Homo sapiens: one gene and its partners. The protein of the gene in region 4 interacts with the protein of the main gene of each other region in a pairwise test. Each region holds a gene or a part of one and is shown on either strand. Other genes may lie near its edges.

Region 1 (4,562 bases), on a different chromosome or scaffold from region 4:
AATAGTTCTTTCTGCATTTATTAATTTCTTCATGAAGTATTTACTGAGCACCTAGTCTACTCCCAGGCACTAGGCCGTTCACAGATGTGAACACCACAGACAAGCCTCTGCTCTCATGCAGCTTACATTCCAGCTGGAAGGCAGGCCATGGAGAGAATAGCATCCTAATAATTGCATTTCAGTGACAAGCGCTACAAAACATATTAACTCAGGGAAATGAACTGGCAAGGATGAGGGAAGACAGGCTGCAAGGAAGGCCTCCCTGTGGGGGAGTTTCCGAGCTAAGAACCAAATGACAGGAAACAAAACTGCTGCAGGGAGCAAGGGACAGGAACCTATACACAAAGAAGCTAGGCCTGTTGGAAGAAGAGAGAGGCAGCCTGTGGTCCCACCACACAGCAAGTTGGAAGGGGTGACTCAAAGCCCAGATCTTGAAAGGCAGGATCTTGTGGCTGTTATGGTTAAGTACAACAGGAGACCCCCAGCATCCTTTAATAAGGGATCAGCTAATAGTGGCTGACCTGTGTTGAGTGCTGCCTGTGTGACAGGCACGATTCTACACACTTTGCATACATTAGCTCATTTTCTCTTCCCAGCAACTCTATGAAGTTGGAAGAAATACAAACCTCATTCCATGGTTGAGGAAGCTGAGTCAAACAGGCAGTAAACAGAGTAGCCAGAACTCAAAGCCAGGCTGTTTGGCTGCAGGCAATGACTGCAGAGGTGAACAAGGGCCAGACTGGTAGGGCCTTGAAGGCCAAGGTAAAGGGTTTGCATTTTATTTCAAGTGTAATGGAAAAAGCCACTGGAGGGGGACTGAGACTTCCTGGTCCATTCCCTTAGATCTGAACTAAGAGAGGGCACAAATTCTGGGACAAGAACACCAAATCTTGGCTGGGTTGGCTGTTAAACCAAACTACTGCAACTTCAGCCATACATAGAAGTCTAATCCAGCCCTGCTCGTATCAAGCAGAATGCTCTAGCCCCTGCAGAACTGGATGTCTTCCCTTTAGGTGAGGGTTCTCGAAGTGGGGCCCTAGACCAGCACCATCAGATTACCTGGGATCTTGTCACCAGTGCAATTTCTGAGGCCTGACCTCAGACCTACTGAATCTTAGAGACCCAGCAATCTGTTTCAACCAGCCTTCAGGGTAATCTGAATGTCCTCTGAAGTTGAAGAACCACCACTCTGGGATATCCGCATGCAGACACCACCATCACCACCAGCTCTCCTAAGTCATGCTGTGTATATCTTCGGGCAGCCCCTGCACTGCACACCAGGCCATTATTCCCGTAGGTCCCTGCTGGTGGGGCTCTACAGCTCCTGATTCCCGGAAATCTCATTACTGCCCCAACCCATTTTTCTAACAAATTTGATTTTCTGCACATATTTACTCTTCAAATGTTTCGGCCTCTTTTTCTGTTGTTTTTTGTTGTTGTTGTTTTGTTTTGTTTTTGAGATGCAGTCTTGCTCTGTCCCCCAGGCTGGAGTGCAATGGCACAATCTCGGCTCACTGCAACCTCCGCCTCCTGGGTTCAAGAGATTCTCCTGCCTCAGCCTCCCAAGTAGCTGGGATTACAGGCGCCTACCACCATGCCCAGCTAATTTTTGTATTTTTTAGTAGAGACGGGGTTTCACCATGTTGTTAAGGCTGGTCTCGAACTCCTGACCTCAGGTGATCCACCCGCCTCGGCCTCCCAAAGTGATGGGATTACAGGCATGAGCCACCACGCCTGGCCCTGTTTCAGTCTCTTTTGTCCCAGAGTAAACCTCCTCTTCCTTCCTACTTCTGGAGCTTAATTTTACTTTCAGGCTTAACCTAGGCTCCAAAGCAGATAGATGCAAAGGATACTTTCAGCTTTAACCTTGACTTTCCCCAACAGCCCTCAGTCACCGGATTTCCCTTTTTAATTTATTCATCCCAAGTTTATTCATGTTCCAATAAATATTTGTGCCCTCAGCCTTCTAGGAACTAATTGTGCAGGTGCCAGGTACTTCTGCCATACCAAAACAGACCTCATCCATGCCCTCATGAAACTGACCTATTAGGGGGAGATGGCAAGATGCAAATAAGTATATAATTGTAAATGATATATCAGAAAAGCCTGAGACTTGAATGATGAAGGGGCAGGCATGACAGTAGTTCATGACAGCAAACATATAGGGGCTGAATCTATGACAGATTCTGTTCTAAGTGCTTTTTACATATACTATCTAGGTAATCTTCCAACAGCCCTATGAGTTAAGTAGTATTATCACTCTCACTCTATATGGAAGGAAAATGAAGTATAGGGAGAATAAGGGGCACATAAACAGGACAGCCAGGGTCCCAACCCAAGCAGACTGGCACCAGAGCCTACCTTTCTAACCACAGGCTAAGGTGAGAAGAGCTGAGTGGAATGCTAAGTGGGAGGGGGTGGCTAGACAGGTGTCCAGGCAGAAAGACCAGAACAGAATATGCAGGAGCCCTGGGGAAGAGAAGTCACCCTGAAGCCAGAAGGGAGACCAAGCATACTGGTGAAACTGGAGAGCATCTGGTGGATTGGAAATATATTTTGGAACTGAACAGGATGTGCGCATGGATGTAGAGACGCTGATGGATGAATGGGGTATAAGCAAGGAGGAGGTCTCAAGGATGACTGCCAGTTTTCTGATTCCCTGCTTTAAAGGCTTGAGCACAGTCTGTTTGTAGGAAGCAAAGTATTATAACACAATATATAATGAAGTCCTACAGGATGCTGATGCACAGCAAGCTCTCAAAAAAATATAACCAATCCATCAGGCAGGTTAAAGCTTCCATATTCTCCCCCCCGCCCCACCCCCATACTTCTCCACATGGGTCTTCGTTCATGGGTTCCACCCTACCTTCTGGGAGCCCTTTTCTGAAATATATTACCACTGGTTAACAACAACAATAAAAATTACATTTATGGTGACAAGAATAACTTCTACCAGGAGGAGGGCTTTTCTCACACAAATGTTGGTTTGAAATTTTTTCTGAAGTGCACAAACTAATTTACAAATGAGAGGCTATGCAACTTGCCCAAGGCCACACAATTGCAAAAAAAAAAAAAAAGCTAAATCCAGGTTGGCCCAACTTGGAAGCCCACACTTCCTCCATTAAATCAGCATTTTCCACCACAGCTATCTCTAATGGAACACAACTGTTGTTTTCGATACACAGATGAACTTTTAAAGTGTTAATAGTAATGGTCTCATTTTATTATGTATAATCATATACGTGTGTGCATGTAATATCAAATAGATTAAAAATAGTATGTAAACATGATTTGATATAAATTTTATATATACATATATTTCAATAAATCCATGACTCCACGTGTAGTACTGCCCAGGAAACACAAAGTTTCTTAAAAAATTAGTTTAAAGAAAACTTCAGAATAAAAGTACAGGTGGTACAGGGGTAGGGTAGAAATCTTGAGGGAGGTAGGACATAAATAACTAAAGCTTAGGAAACTCTACTCACCAACCACCCAAGAACAGCCAAGCACCTGTTCCATATTGTACCCAAATTTGGCTACAGCCACACATAACTCTGTCTGCTTGGGAGAGTTAAAACATTGGCTGCCTTGGGGGAAAGGGGATAACATCAGAAGATAATTTAGCATAAATCATCCTCAAAGCAGTATTAGTTTTGACATAAATACTGGTTTGGTGGTACAACTCCTCTGCTTATTCACCTATACACCTTGGTTAAACGAGTCAAGCTTTCCCAGGCCTGTTTCACTTAGTCAAAAGGAAGTTATAGAAAGTAGTCCCTAAGGTCGCTTCCAGTTTTAGAACTCCATAAAATGTTGTGAGACCCTGAAATCCAAAATTACTCTTTCCAGAATCAGAGGCCCCAGTCGTGAAATGAGCATTGGCCTGAAGAACAAATGCTAAATAAGCCCACACAGCACCCCAAGCCATCATGCCATCAATTATGCTGCCCTCTGGAAAGACAGAGTAAGACATTAATTACAAGATGATAAAGTTCAACCAACAAAATATCCCTGTCCCTATCAAAACTTTAAGAATTTCCTCCCAATAATTTTTAAGCTATTAACTGTACACTTGATCCTCAGCTTCTCTATTATTTCCAGTCCTTAACCATTAACTTCATTCTAAGTTGGGGTAGCAGGGTGGGGTAACGGGTAGGAAAAAAAATCTGGGAAATCTTCTCAAACCTCTACCATCCTGTAAAGCTGGTGCTGGAAACCACCTGTAAAACCTTCCCAGCTTTCATCTGCGTGACTCCACTGATGCTAGAGCATATTTAGTGTGCTAAACCTCTAAAAGGAGTTGCTGTTCCTTACTTCTCAGACACTTTATAAGCAAGACAGTTTAGCCAGAACAAGCACTTACTCTCCTAATGAAAGATACACTTATCAAAAGGAAAGTCTTAAGGACCCCTCCTTGCCTGGTTTACAAGGCCCTTTCTGTGCTATCAGTGGGCCCACAAACTTTTAATGGAGGGTTTTTAGATTCTCAGAAAGGTAAGTTTTGAAATATGGTCAGTTCGTGTTTAGCTGAACAGAAGATGGGTGGACTGCAGCTGGCA
Region 2 (5,224 bases), on a different chromosome or scaffold from region 4:
CTTTATTTTAAGAATAGCTCATTGTGTTCTATTTGGTTGACAATTAGGATGTCGTTTATTCGTCTAAGTCATTGGTTTCCTATCTCTTTTCTCAATAGCAGAAACATGTTTTTCAAATTCAGCCCTACTCAGAACTCTAGTAAGTAAAACTGATAAAAGCTAAACAGCTCTGGCTGAAATGGATTTTGGGGCCCAGCAACCAGCCCACTTGACTCCACAGTGACCCCTGAAGCACCTTGAGGTATATGGAGCATAGTGTGAACCCCAGATTGAAGCCAACAACAACAAAAACAACAACAACAACAACAAATCCCAACCTGAAGAAGTACATGTTAAGAGCAGCCTGATTTGTATAATGCATCTTTCATTTCCCTGTCTCCCATCACATTGGATCCTCATTATCAACTCTGAGGTAGACAAGGCAGCACATATCACCCTCAATTTGCAAATGAGGAAGTAAAGGCCAAATGGAGTTAAGCAGCTGGCCAAAGGTGCACCAGTTCAATTTTCAGCCAAGTGCAGACTGGAAGTCGAGTCTGTCTCCATTAACTCTGTGTGACCTGGCAAAGAGGATGCCATCTACTGGAAATTGCTACTGACCCTTGGTCCACAAAGTGGACAATCAGCTTCTTGGCCATTGAGAGCAGAGCACAGCCCCATGGGCCCTCCTGCCAAGGCCCTGTCCCAGAGCAGATGGCAATGAGCAGGGGAGAAGGGCTCAGTGCCACTGAAGGGCCTGACAGCAGGATTTTAGCTGTAGATGGGCCATTCCTGTCTGAGCCTTGTCATGCTGAGCACAGGGCAGGGAGGCAGGACTAGCCAAAGTGCCTTCCACCTTCATCTGCAGTAAGTAAATGAGCCCACAGAGGGACAGCAGGTAGTGTAGAGCTGGGTGTCATTTACACTTTGCTTTTCTTCTTAGCTCTTGCTTAGGCATCCCTGAAACCCGAGGCAGCTGATAAATGCCTGAATGGCTCCCCAACTCCAGAGCATCTCTGAACTGAGCTGTAGCATGTGTTGGAGCAGGCAACACTTAATTATCGGTTAGTCTTTAATTAGCTCTTAATTATTAACACTTAATCCATCTGTAAAATGGGGACACTAATACCTGCCTCACAGGGACTCTGGGAACATTAATTAAGTTTACAGTCCACTTTGAAGATGCAAAACGTGAAATAAGTAAGTGCTCAACGGCGGTATTAATAACCACAGCAGATTTACTTTCTTTTCCTAATTTCCCTTTTTCCTCTCTGCTCCTTCCTTTCCTTTCGAATATCCATCCTCAACAATATCTGCCCAACTTTGCCCTGATGGAGAAACACTTAGCTCTGTGTTTCCCAGACACAGGATTTCCCATCCCGGAAACGGGCTATTTACAGCCATCTTCCCGCACTTTAATTTTCTATTATGTCCTCTGAATATGTCAGTGCCTTCCCAGTAAATATTTTGATGTGTGCTCTTGCAGCAGCTTCTGTGGAGGCTGAATGGGACAGCTGCTCCCTGTATTAGGGAATTCCAGATGTGATTTAAAACCATCAGACTCATCCATGTGAATGCCTAGCCTTTAGGTGGGAGAGGGGAAGGATCTTCTAGTTGCTTCTGGGGAAAGCCACAAGCCATATAACCCTTAGCCTTAGCTAGGGTGGTTTTTCAAGGACCTCAGATTCACATGCGTTTAGGATGAGAAATGTCTGCTTAACGGGCTGGTGAAGAGGCAGCCTGGAATATAGCCCTAATCTGACTCTTCACCCACAAAACTTCAGAACTTTGGTCAGCTCTTCTATAAAGCTTGGACAAAGGACCATGGAGGGGGCAATATACAGCCTTTAGGGTTTCACCAGCCTCAACAGTGGGCCAGAACATTCCCCCAGAAGGTCAGACTTCATCTCCTCCCTCCTCCCTTGCTGCCAATGGAGTAGGGGGGTACTTACTCTTCTTGAAAGCTGAGCTCATTGCCTCTTAGAGTTCCAACCACAGGGACAGAGAGCTGCTCCATGGAGGTCCAGGGCTGTGAGGCCTCAGGCAGGCCTTGAACTCTCTTCCAGATTTCATGGCAAGTCTTGTCTAGGCTGTCTTGGGGTGTGTCCTGGTGGATCCAGATGTATCTGGGGAATGGGCCCAGGGCGCAGGGGCCCTTGGCCACCAGGGCCGAGGATGAAGGAAGCCCATTCCCGCTGGCCATCCTCCTCCTCTCTTTCTGGAAGCCCCTCTGTCCACCCAGGGCTAGAACACAACCACCACCACCCCTCATTCACCAGAAAGGGAGATGAGGATGGGGCTTGGCAGAAGTGGGTCAGTTCTGTCTGGCTTTCGCTCCAGCAAGGTGGTTAGGTTCAGAGGCCTTCTATTTGTGTGGGAGGGGTGGGTGGAGGACAGCTTTCTTTTGGGGAGGGGAGGGCTTATTTTGATTTGTTTTTATTTGCTCTTTCCTGACTTTTGCCTCCCTCCCCCTCTCCCTTAGAAGAAAATATTTAAAAGTCAACAAAAACCAGTAGCTTAGGAACAGTGGAATGCTGCGGAGCTCAGGAACCAGGCGCCTGGGCGGGCAGAATGACATCTGGGAACAGCTGGAAGGGGAGGGCTGGCTCTCCCCACAGTCCCTGGCACTGCCCCCTTGCGACGCCGCCGTGACAACTTTCGGCGCCTGGGCTCAGCCCATGCTGTCCCGCTAAGCCACGCGGAGGACTGGGTGCGGGCCTGGCACCATTGTAGGCACTCGGGGGGCGGGGCCCCGCAGGAGGCGCTCGCCTGGGCGTTCCCAGGGAGCCCCTCGCAGAGCGAGCGTCAACGGCCCGACTCCCACCCCCGGCCCAGGTCCTGCTTTTCTCTCGCCCTACCCCTCCTGCTCCCGGTCTCCCGCTGCTGCTCTGCTGCCCCCGGAAAGAAGGGATGAGGCGTGTGTGGATGGGCCCACAGCCCTTAGTCCCCGGCCCCCAGCAGACCCCTGCCCCAGCCGCGCCGCGCTGCCAGGCGGGCACCGGGAAGGGCCCAGCGGCTCAAGAGCGCGCTGACTCGGCAAGGCAGGCTGGGCCGGGCGGCTCCCACCAATTTGCCTGCCAGTAGCTCCCACACCCTCGCCGTCGTCGAGCGGGGGAATTCTTTCTGTGGGTTTCAAACGCAACGGCTCGGTGCGCGGGGCGCCCTGGGTTCGGAGCCCAAGACCCGCCGGTGGGGTGGGTGGGGGTGGGGCCCAAAGGACCCCAGAGCGCTTCGGGGGATCAGAAGTCAAAGCCAAACGCGCCGCCGCCCCACTTCGCCGCTCCACACAAATCTCAGCTCCTGCCTGGGGGTCCCCCGGCAACCTCGATTTTAATCCTAACTGCCATTTTATGGGGCGCTTGCCCTGTGCCAAGCGCTGGGCTCACATTCAATCCTATTAAAGCTCGTGAAATTAGTACCACTTTTTATTATCGTTCTACACGGGAGGAAAGCGAATCTCAAAGTCATAAGGGATTGCGTCCAAGGCCCCCTGAGAAAAGGGAAGCTGAGACTCAGACCCCAGCACTCTAGGCCTGATCTAGCCCTTGACCACTGAGACAGCTTCAGTAGGTGGGTAGGAGCAGGAGTAGGAGGTCCGAGGTGCAGGGAGAAGGGCTAAGTTAGCTGTTTGCTGATCAACAGGCCCCTACCCTCACTGAAGCGGCTTCATTCAATTGGGCACTGACACAGTACCTCTGCTGAGGGAGACTTTCTGGTTCCGAGAGTCAGGGGGTTGCTTCTCTAGCAATTCCCCTGAAAAGGAAAAGCAAGAGGGTGGAGACGGAAGAAAGAAGAATGGACACAAATAGAGGAAGATGGCAGTCTATAAATGCAGGGCTGGGTTGAATCCTGACACTCATTTCCGAGCTGTGTGACCTTAAGAACTTTCTGAACTTCTCCCATCCCCATTCATAATTCCCCCAGTACTGATGCAACCCCTCCTCTGTGCCCGATGAGTTGCTGGGCACTGAAGAAGCATAAGGGTGGGCAAAAATGGCATGGTCCCTGCTCTCCTGGAGCCTGTATACTAGCGAGGAGAGATCGATGCAAACCAGCCAAGCGAGTAAAGCAGCAATAATTACAGATGCAATGGGACTCTGATGGAAAATAACTATTAGGTTGGTGCAAAAGTAATTGCGGTTTTTGCCATCACTTGCAATGGCAAAAACCACAATTACTTTTGTACCAACCTAGTAACAAAGTGAGGCACTGGGGAGAAGAGGGGAGGCAATATTCCATGGTGGTCCAGGCCGACTTCTTTGAGGAGAAAAATTTGAGAAGGATGAGAGGAATTCCTTTTCTGTAAAATGGTGTTAATAAATTATGAGGATCATGTTTCTGGCACATAGTAGGCACTCAAAAAATATGTGTTGGATGAATTAATGGTATACTGTATGTAAAGTGCCTGGTATACAGTAGGTGCCCAATACGCAACCTTGCTCTTTACAGAGGGGCTGAGTTCCTGGAAATGTTTACTCTAAATTTTGAAATCTGAGCTTCATTCTCCTTTGATTTTCATTACAAAATTGAAGATGTGTTCCTTTGGGGAAAATTCTGAGGGCCTAGACTGAATAAAATTATAGTTAAGAATGTAGAAAACCTTTTAAAATAGTGTATTTAAAGGAAAAGTGATCATTTCTGATGAAATATTAATAGTTCTGAAAATGTCACTCAGTGTTTGTGCTGCTTGGCATTTGGTTGGCTAACACCTTAAGCTTAGAGCAGAACGCCAACGACCCTGCACTGCCCAGGCCCCAGGATTCTGGAAGTTAGCCAGCTCACTCACTCTTCCTGTTCCCTCTCCCCCTCAGCAGGAGACCAGGCAACGGGGGCTAAATCAGAAAGGACTGCAAAAAAAAAAAAAAAAAAAATCAAATACAGCAGGGATACGGAACAAAGATAGAGCATGTTTTTAGAGTGCACAGACGAGATTTCTAGAAAATTCTGCAAAAATCTTAAGTGATGTACTTAGAAATAGTATAAAGCTATGTCCATATGGTAGCCACTAGCCACATGGGGTTGTTTTAATTTTAACTTTATTTTTATATAAATTAAATGAAAAATTCAGCTCCTCATTTGCATTAGCCACATATTATGTGCTCAGTAGCCACATATGGCTAGTGGCTACCATATTGGACAGCACAGAGAACATTTCTTATCATTAAATACATATTCTCGGGAACCAGAGTCCCTGGGTTCAGATTCTGAGTTCACGTTTTCTGGCAATGTAAGCTTAGGCAAGTTA
Region 3 (3,562 bases), on a different chromosome or scaffold from region 4:
AGGACAGAAGGATTGTGGACTCTTGCTCTCCGAGGTCTGACTGGATATGGCCTGTGGCTTTGGGGCCCAGAGGCGAGGTCTCCTGGTGTGAATGGCTTCTGAGTTCTGTCTGGATCCAGGCATTTTAGGTTCCAGGAGGCTCGACAGGATCAAAGTGAAAAGCACATATGGGATGGGGGCGGTGGCTCATGCCTGTAATTCCAGCACTTTGGGGGTGCTGACGCAGGAGGAAGGCTTAAGGCCAGGAGTTTGAAATCAGCCTGGGCAACATAGTGAGAGCCTGTTTCTACAAAAAGTTTTAAAAAATTAGCTGATAATATGTTAGTTTGTAAGTAGGGAAAAATTATTTTAAAAACTAGCTGGGCTTGGTGGTGAACGCCTGTAGTCCTAGCTACTTGAGAGGCTGAGGCAAGAGGGTGGCTTGAACCCAGGAATTCAAGGTTGCAGTGAGCTATGATTGTGCCACTGATAGCAGAGTCCTGGTTGGCCCTGTTCACTTCTGTGTCCCCAGTGCTGGGGACAGAATAGATGCTCAATCAGTGTGTGCTGAATGAATGAATTAGGTGGGAATTACCATTTGGGAACTGAAGAAGTAGACATTAAATCACAGCTAGGAGTCAAATCCAGAGTGGTGGCTCACCCATGACTCAACCTGCCAAGCCTGGGGACATCTCAAGGGTGGATTCTGTGCCTGCTGTCCCCTGCCCAGGGCACAGCCCAATTCTGCAACATGGGTTTGTTTTGACAAAACAATCAAATCCATGCATGACTACGGTACAGTCAAAGTTGTCAAAGGTCATCCTCAAACTAGTAAAAACAAACAAGATCAAATTCTTTTTCTGAACTTAAAAAATTACTTTTATTTTAGGAACCAATAAAATTATGGCAAATATTTACAAATAATTATCTCACATAAAGGTTACATAAAATCAATTCTTCACAAGTAACAGCCACTCATGAAAAGACACACAGATATTGAAACTACGCCAATCTTATTGCATGTTTCTCCAACTAATCTAAAATAAAGGTGTTGCAGTCAACCATTTAACTTAAAAGGAAGCCACAAATTTCAGGTTTGACAAGGAAAAAAAAGTAAAAAAAAAATTAAACCAAAACCCCACCCCTGTTTTCTCCCAAGTCCCACCCCTAGCCCTGCCCTCCTCCCCAAAAAAGAAAAATATGTCCAACATCTTTGGCAAATTGGCACTGCTGTAATTACATTCAAATATTATTACACACAAAAGCAACACACGTCACTAAGAAAAAAACCACCAATATTTCAAGTCAGTTATTTTCTACTAGAAAAAAAGAATACAAAACATACACATTTTTTAAGAAGCATTTTTTTTTTTCAATCCGTTGGAGACAGATCATCTCCCACTTTCAAAGGCAATTCAATTGTGGTTTTTGTTGTTGGTTTTTTTGTATTTTTTTGTATTTTTTTTTTTTTACAAGTAAGCGTCTATGCAGGCATCACAAACTTTGGCGGATACAGTAGATATGTATTTCTTTGATGCTGAAAGGTCAGTCCCTAAGACAAAATCAAATGTCTCAAAGAATTAAAAGCAAAATGCATGTGTCTTCCTGGCAAAGGTTTCCATTTGCAATGTAATCTGCATTTCTACAAATACTCAATGTCCAAGGCCACTAGAGGGTGAAAAACCAGGGCAGCGTCTTCCAGCAGGAGTCAGGGCAAACCCAGAGCCAAAACTCCATCCTCAGCCCAACCTTGGAGGCCCAGCAGCTGGGGCTGAGAAGTGGGGCCCAGGCAACGCCAGGCCCTCACTGCCCGCCACCCTCTGTTGTGCTGGGTGCTTGGGGCCAGGGGATGGGCCTGCCTCTTCCTGAGCCCCGGGACAGGCTGCTGCCGGGTCTGCTCACCTTCTCTGACCCAAGTCGAAGACAGCAGGCAAGAATTGGCATGGGGAGACTCAGTGCTGTTTCTGAGTTTCAAGTATGTCTGAGGTGTAGGGGAGTGAGTGAGTGTGTGTGTGTGTGTGTGTGTGTGTGTGTGTGTGTTTACATGCTCGTGCACCTTATGGAGGGGAAGGCCAGATTCTGAGGCTCTGAACTTTTTGCAGTGTTTAAAATAGACTCAGGATTTATTTATTTTCTTTTTAGCTTTATAGCAATTAATTGGCTATTGATTGGTTGGAATGTTCAACTCTCCATTTCCTCAAATACAATAAAATAGTTTCATTAAAATGTATTCATGCTTGAAAAGAAGGGCGCCATTAAATGGTTTCCTTTCTGTTCCACTCCAAGGGAAATGCGCCGTTTGTAAATCAAAAATCCATCATCCAAAATCACTTGTTCTTAATGATGCTTTTGGAGAAGATGAGGGACGTGGCCACAGGCATGGTGATTTTGGGGACAAGGGCGACCAGCGGCCATAGCCACAGGGTCACAGGGTGGGGGGCGGGGGTCAGGGCAGGTGAGGCTGGTGTGGCCTCCTCCTGCCAGGCCTCAGAGTCGGGGAGGAGATGCACGACTGCCAAGTCACCCCCACCCTGCTGTTTCACCTGCTTCCCTCCCTGGGCCCCGATCAGCCACCGGAAGCTGATGGGTGGGTGGGTTTGTGCCTCTGTCTCTCCTGCCACAGGCCAAGTACCCTACCTGAGACGACTCCTTTGAGGCTTTGCTGATTGTCCCTCAGTAGATATTAATAGGTAAGCAGCTGCATTTTCTCCTTGTGTTGCTCAGGGGTCTAAGATGTGGGAACAAGAATTTCTGGGCTTTCTGAATGGTGGCTACGTTTACCCATCTTGGAGATGAGCTAAAGGGGACCCCTTGGATTGAAACTCTAGAATGGCAGTGACATGATTCTGAGGTTCCCTTCAATCCTGGGGTGCCCAGGAACGGAGCCTCAGTGCTGAGGAATTACCAGAAAAGGAAAGACAGGCTGGTGCCTGCCTGCTCCTGGCCGGCAGCTCATTTCAGAGAAGCTGTTGCCTCATCAGGGGAGCAGGCAGGCAAGGGGCTCACAGCCTGGCCTCTGCAGAGGCCCTTGGGACCTGGCGCCACACGAGGTGCAGCCGAGCTGACAGTGGGGAAGTACACATCAGCACTGTGGTTCCCCCATGAATATGCAAGAGGGAACCCTGAGGTTTGGGGCAACAGGGGCAAGGGGCTGAAGGGGCTGCTGGGAGGTGGGGCACGCCGTGGGCTAGGAGTCGTGGCCTGACTGTCCAACTTTCCAATAATGCATTTTATTACCTTTTAAGAAATGTACTTGCCTCGGACCTCTCCGAGGCCAAAAGAACGAAAGAAATAGTTTCCCCAGGAGAGCTGGTGTGTGGCTGGGAACCATCAGAGCAGCCTCTCGATGGGTGACAAGGCCAAGACTGCAGAACTGGCCTCGTAGTGGGGCCACCGTGGAGCCGGTCTAGCTCAGAGCCCTGTGGGATCCACCCATGCCTGCCTGGGCCTGGCCTGGCCGTGGGGCAGGAGTTGGTTTCCACCCTCCCGGGAAGCTGTATCTTAGACTCCCCTCCTGGGAAGCTGTATTTCAGACTCATCGTGTTTCTAGGGCTGTGTCAGGGTGCTTGGTTGGTTTTTAAGA
Region 4 (4,562 bases):
AAATAATATTCAAATAAGGTTTGGGTTTCCAAGTTACACTATTTTTTAAAACTCTCACACTCTGCATCTTCATAAACTATGATCACAGTTTATTAAATCAACACAATGAAGTCTACACACCTTCCCACTCTAGTTCAAAATAAAGTTTATCTTATAACTAAGAATACCTATAGCAAAAATGATTAAACACGAAATTAGATAAACATTACATAAGCAAATTGAAATCAGTTTTCATACTAATGCTACCTTAGATTCATTCACAGCTCTCTAAAGAACAGAGGATCTCAAGGGACCTGTGGAGAGACCTATCTGACCTCCTCAGTTTACAGCTGGGAACCAAGCAACTGGGCTTAGACTGAGCCCAGCGACAGCTTTCAAATGATGCTCTATTTTACTTGGAACTGACTCTTCCCAACCATCACTGCGATCCCTAGGTAATGCATTTTATTTCCTTTCAAAGTGCGTGACCTGGGTTTCAGACTCAACTCTGCATTAAACACTCAGTGTGTCAGGAAAGTCAGGCTTCCTTGGGGTCTGTTTCCTTATTTGTTCAATGCAGACATTACCAGCTTTGCCTATTCCACAGGGTGCTTGTTAGGCTTGGGATAATTAGGATTACATGTGGGAAAGTGACACTGAAACTGTACTCGCTATACAAGAGAATGCAAGTGAGAAAAAAATAGCATCAACAGCAGCTTAAAAAAGTGCTCACTGAGGCATGTCTTAGAAAAATGAACTTACATCACCATGAAATAACCTAGGGAACTGGTACATGAACTCAGTTCTTCCAAAATGTTATACTTCCAAAAGACCCGCTCAGGAAATGTGTTTCTGGCATTCAATTCACTAGCAAATTCTCCTTCCTACTCCTGGTTCATACATATTGTCAAATCAGAATTATGCCCACATTTTATTTACCTATTTAGCCAAAATGTGAAAACTGTCTCACACCTTTTCCTTCTGCCATATATACATATATAAATAAAGACAGAGTCTCGCTCTGTCGCCCAGGCTGGAGTGCAGTGGCATGATCTCGGCTGACTGCAACCTCCACCTCCCGGGCTCAAGTAATTCTCGTGCCTCAGCCTCCCAAGTAGCTGGGACTACAGGCACCTGCCATAACGGTCGGCTAATTTTTGTTATTTTTAGTAGAGATGGGGTTTCGCCATGTTGGCCAGGCTGGTCTGGAATTCCTGGCCTCAAGTGATCTGCCTGCCTCGGCCTCCCAAAGTGCTGGGATTATAGGTGTGAGCCACTGCGCCCAGCCCACCTTATACTTTTGATACCTCTTCTGCCTGCTCACTCCCACAGACTTCCCAGGATGCACCCACCCAGCATCTGTGTGCCATTTGCCACACAGCAACCATCTGGGCTCCCGGCTACACTAAGCCTGCTCAGCTCTAGACCCTAACCCCCCTGACTCAAGGACAAGCTCCCTCAACTCTTCCTTCTCCAACATCATCGACATTTTGCACTCTACCAATACATTCCACCACGTTGGTAAATGATGGTGTTTTCTCCTATGTTAACACAGTAGCTGCTTTCCTTTGGCCCTACCTATCGCTTTATTTCTTATTCCTATTTGCAGCAAAAACTTCCATAAAGAGCTGTCGGTCGGGCTCAGTGGCTCACACCTGTAATCCCGGCACTTTGGGAGGCCGAGGCAGGTGGATCACAAGGTCAGGTGTTCAAGACCAGCCTGGCCAAGACGGTGAAACCCTGGCCCTACTAAAAATACAAAAATTAGCCAGGCGTGGTGGCGGGCGCCTGTAATCCCAGCTACTCGGGAGGCTGAGGCAGAAGAATCGCTTGAACCCAGGAGGTAGAGGTTGCAGTGAGCTGAGATCGCATCGCTGCCCTCCAGCCTGGGCAATGGAGTGAGACTCTGTCTCAAAGGAAAAAAAAAAAAAAAAAAGGAAAGAAAAAAGAGCTGTCTACACTTGTGTCTCTAATTCCCAGCCTCTCATTTTCTCTCAAACATACTCCCATCAGGCTTTCTTCCCTCCACTCCATAAATGCTGTGCCCATCATGGCTGCCAGCAGCCATCACAAGGCCCAGGGGCCAATCCCCCGTCCTCATCTCCTCATGTGAATGAGCCTCCCTCAGTCACCACACTCTAGGAGGAGGGGTCACGTGAGTGCCTTCTCCATTTCCTTCCCTATTCCCTTTGTCCCTCCACCTCAAGGGGGCTAAGTCCCGGGTCCTGGTCTCTTCCTCCCCTGCAAGTGCTCGCTACCAGTCCTAGGCTTCAAGGCTACCGACAGACGGATGACACCCACTTTGATCTCTCTATCCCAGACCTTGCCCCTAAATTCCACTGTCTAACAGACATCTCCAAACCCTAGCAAGGCTCCTTGAAGGGTCCAGCTTCAAAGCAGAGTACAAGCCCATCTCCCCGGCCACACCCCTACCCGCCTGCTGGGGGCCTCCACCTCTCCTCTGGATGATGGCAGCCTCTGCTCTGTTCTCCTGCTCTGCCCTGCCCTTGACGATCCACCCTCAATTCAGCAGCTGGGAGGAGCCTCTTTGCATCTCAGTCAGACTAGGCACCCAGAAATGGGCAGGTGAGAGAAATATCTGCTGGGTTAATGATAAAGGACTAGAAATTAAACCAGTTGTGAGAGGAGACCCACAGATTCCCCGAGAGGACTCCACCCCAGCATCCTACAGGTGGGAGGGATGGGGGACAGATGAGAGGGACGGGGGAAGGGGAACAATAATTCCGACAAGCCCAGTGGACCCTGTTGTCTAACTCTCGTGAAGCTGCAGGCAGACCACAGGTCTATTTTACAGAAGGGGAAACCAAGGCTCAGAGAGGCCCTAAATTTCTCAAGGATGCATGGCTGCCAAGGGGAGGAGTCTGAGCTGGGGCCCGAGGTGGCCGGGCTAAAGCTTTCTCTTTCTCATAGACCACCGCAGGGACAGGAGTTCCTTTTCTACCCTGGGTCGCAAATTAAAGCAAATCTCTGAGACCCTCAGTCTGATTTCTGCAACTTTTTTCTATCTCCCAAATTTCAATCTAATATTTGAAAGAGTTGGCAAAATTTTCTTTAGAAAATGATGTTAAACTCTGTGTGGCTTTTGGGAATAACATTAGGTAACCTTATATATAACACTATTAATTACTGACATTAATGTTCATATGTATAGCAGGAATTTTAATTTTACTTACTAAAATGCACCAAAAAGTACTCACATTTTTCATTTTTGTACTTTTTGAAGAAAACATTTTGTAATAAAACAAGGAATGGCACAAAATGAGTAAGAATTGAGACAAACTGAACATTAAGTAGATATTTCTAAATTATTAGTCTTTTAATTTTTCAACTTTTCCCTTTTTAATTAAGTTTACTTGCAAAATAAAGACGTCCTTATTTATAGGTTGCAACAAGTGAATCTGAGATGAGGCTATGGAAACTGCTAGAAAATTTAGTAGAACAAATAAAATAACTTGACATATTATATAATCTATGATATAGAAAATGTAAAGAAAGGTAAATAAAATGAGAGAAATAAAAATATTTTCACTTTAAGTTTGCACTGTGAAGAATTTATAAGGAGACCACTTTGATAAAATTATTAAAATCTGAAATTATTTTCCTAAGATACATACAAAACACTGACTATGGAGCTTGATTTCCTTAAAAGCAACCATCAATCTGCCCAAGGATGGAGACCAATTTAAACTTTCATAACGAAAACAAAGTCAAAGACTAATGAAAAACTAAGTGGTTAAAACACAAATGAAAAAGGGAAGATGTGAAGAACCATGTTAGGGTAAAAAATACTGAGGATGGAAGAATGGCAAATGAGGAAAGAAGGCTATTGTAACAATTAGAGTAGTTATTCTCCTTTCTGCTGTATCTCTAACATGACTTGCTGACTACAGTATGAGTTTATCTCTTTCATTTTACATTTATTTTGACTTCCCCAGTGTGTCACAAAATAACCCACTAGACAGATTTTTAAAAAAAATTCTACAAAATGTCAGCACAGTAACAAACAAGAAAGTTTAACATATTGTTCCTCACAAAATTTTCATTTTAATCTCTTTCACTTAGGTCCTTTGTAATGTGCTTCAGTTCTTACTTTGGGGGAAAATATTTCAATGCATACCAGTAACTAACAAAATAGTACTTAATTAAAGCACACAAGCACACTAGCCTATTAAATTTAGATAGCATCTTTCCTAGTTAAATTAACGGAATAAACTAAATAATACAGTATTTTCATTTAAATATCAGAATATACTTATCAAAGAGTAAATAATTTCTTCTATGTGTCCAGCTATTTTTGGCAAAATTAAGAGCTAATATAATCGGTTTAACTGAACTCTAAGTCTCAAAGTCATCACAGGTAGTCAAGTTAAAAATAAAGAATGAAATTGAACCACTTGGCTTGTGACACTAATTAACAAATACAGTAAAGCCCCCCTTAGAACACAGTCTGGAGTGGATTTTACGACTTTGTCCTCGTGAGCGCTCGTGTAAGCAGGTGGTCATGCTGCCTGAGGCATTAAGAAAGCATGGCGGGGCCAAGGTCGCGGGGAAGGATACGGTCA

What was found.
Region 1: the proteins of MAPK9 (region 4) and MED12L interact in binary tests that used the Homo sapiens proteins (3 or more experiments, as listed by UniProt).
Region 2: the proteins of MAPK9 (region 4) and C1orf94 interact in binary tests that used the Homo sapiens proteins (3 or more experiments, as listed by UniProt).
Region 3: the proteins of MAPK9 (region 4) and PAX5 interact in binary tests that used the Homo sapiens proteins (3 or more experiments, as listed by UniProt).

What each region holds. Positions count from the first base shown.
Region 1 is NC_000003.12:151,087,936-151,092,497, reverse strand, and holds part of MED12L (mediator of RNA polymerase II transcription subunit 12-like protein), read right to left. Parts: intron 1-4,562. UniProt on the Homo sapiens protein: May be a component of the Mediator complex, a coactivator involved in the regulated transcription of nearly all RNA polymerase II-dependent genes.
Region 2 is NC_000001.11:34,174,817-34,180,040, reverse strand, and holds the start of C1orf94 (uncharacterized protein C1orf94), read right to left. Parts: upstream 3,135-5,224; 5' UTR 2,252-3,134; coding exon 1,932-2,251; intron 1-1,931.
Region 3 is NC_000009.12:36,832,435-36,835,996, forward strand, and holds the end of PAX5 (paired box protein Pax-5), read right to left. Parts: 3' UTR 835-3,562; downstream 1-834. UniProt on the Homo sapiens protein: Transcription factor that plays an essential role in commitment of lymphoid progenitors to the B-lymphocyte lineage. Fulfills a dual role by repressing B-lineage inappropriate genes and simultaneously activating B-lineage-specific genes.
Region 4 is NC_000005.10:180,242,882-180,247,443, forward strand, and holds part of MAPK9 (mitogen-activated protein kinase 9), read right to left. Parts: coding exon 4,558-4,562; coding exon of another isoform or gene 4,517-4,557; exon of another isoform or gene 3,139-4,516; intron 1-3,138. UniProt on the Homo sapiens protein: Serine/threonine-protein kinase involved in various processes such as cell proliferation, differentiation, migration, transformation and programmed cell death.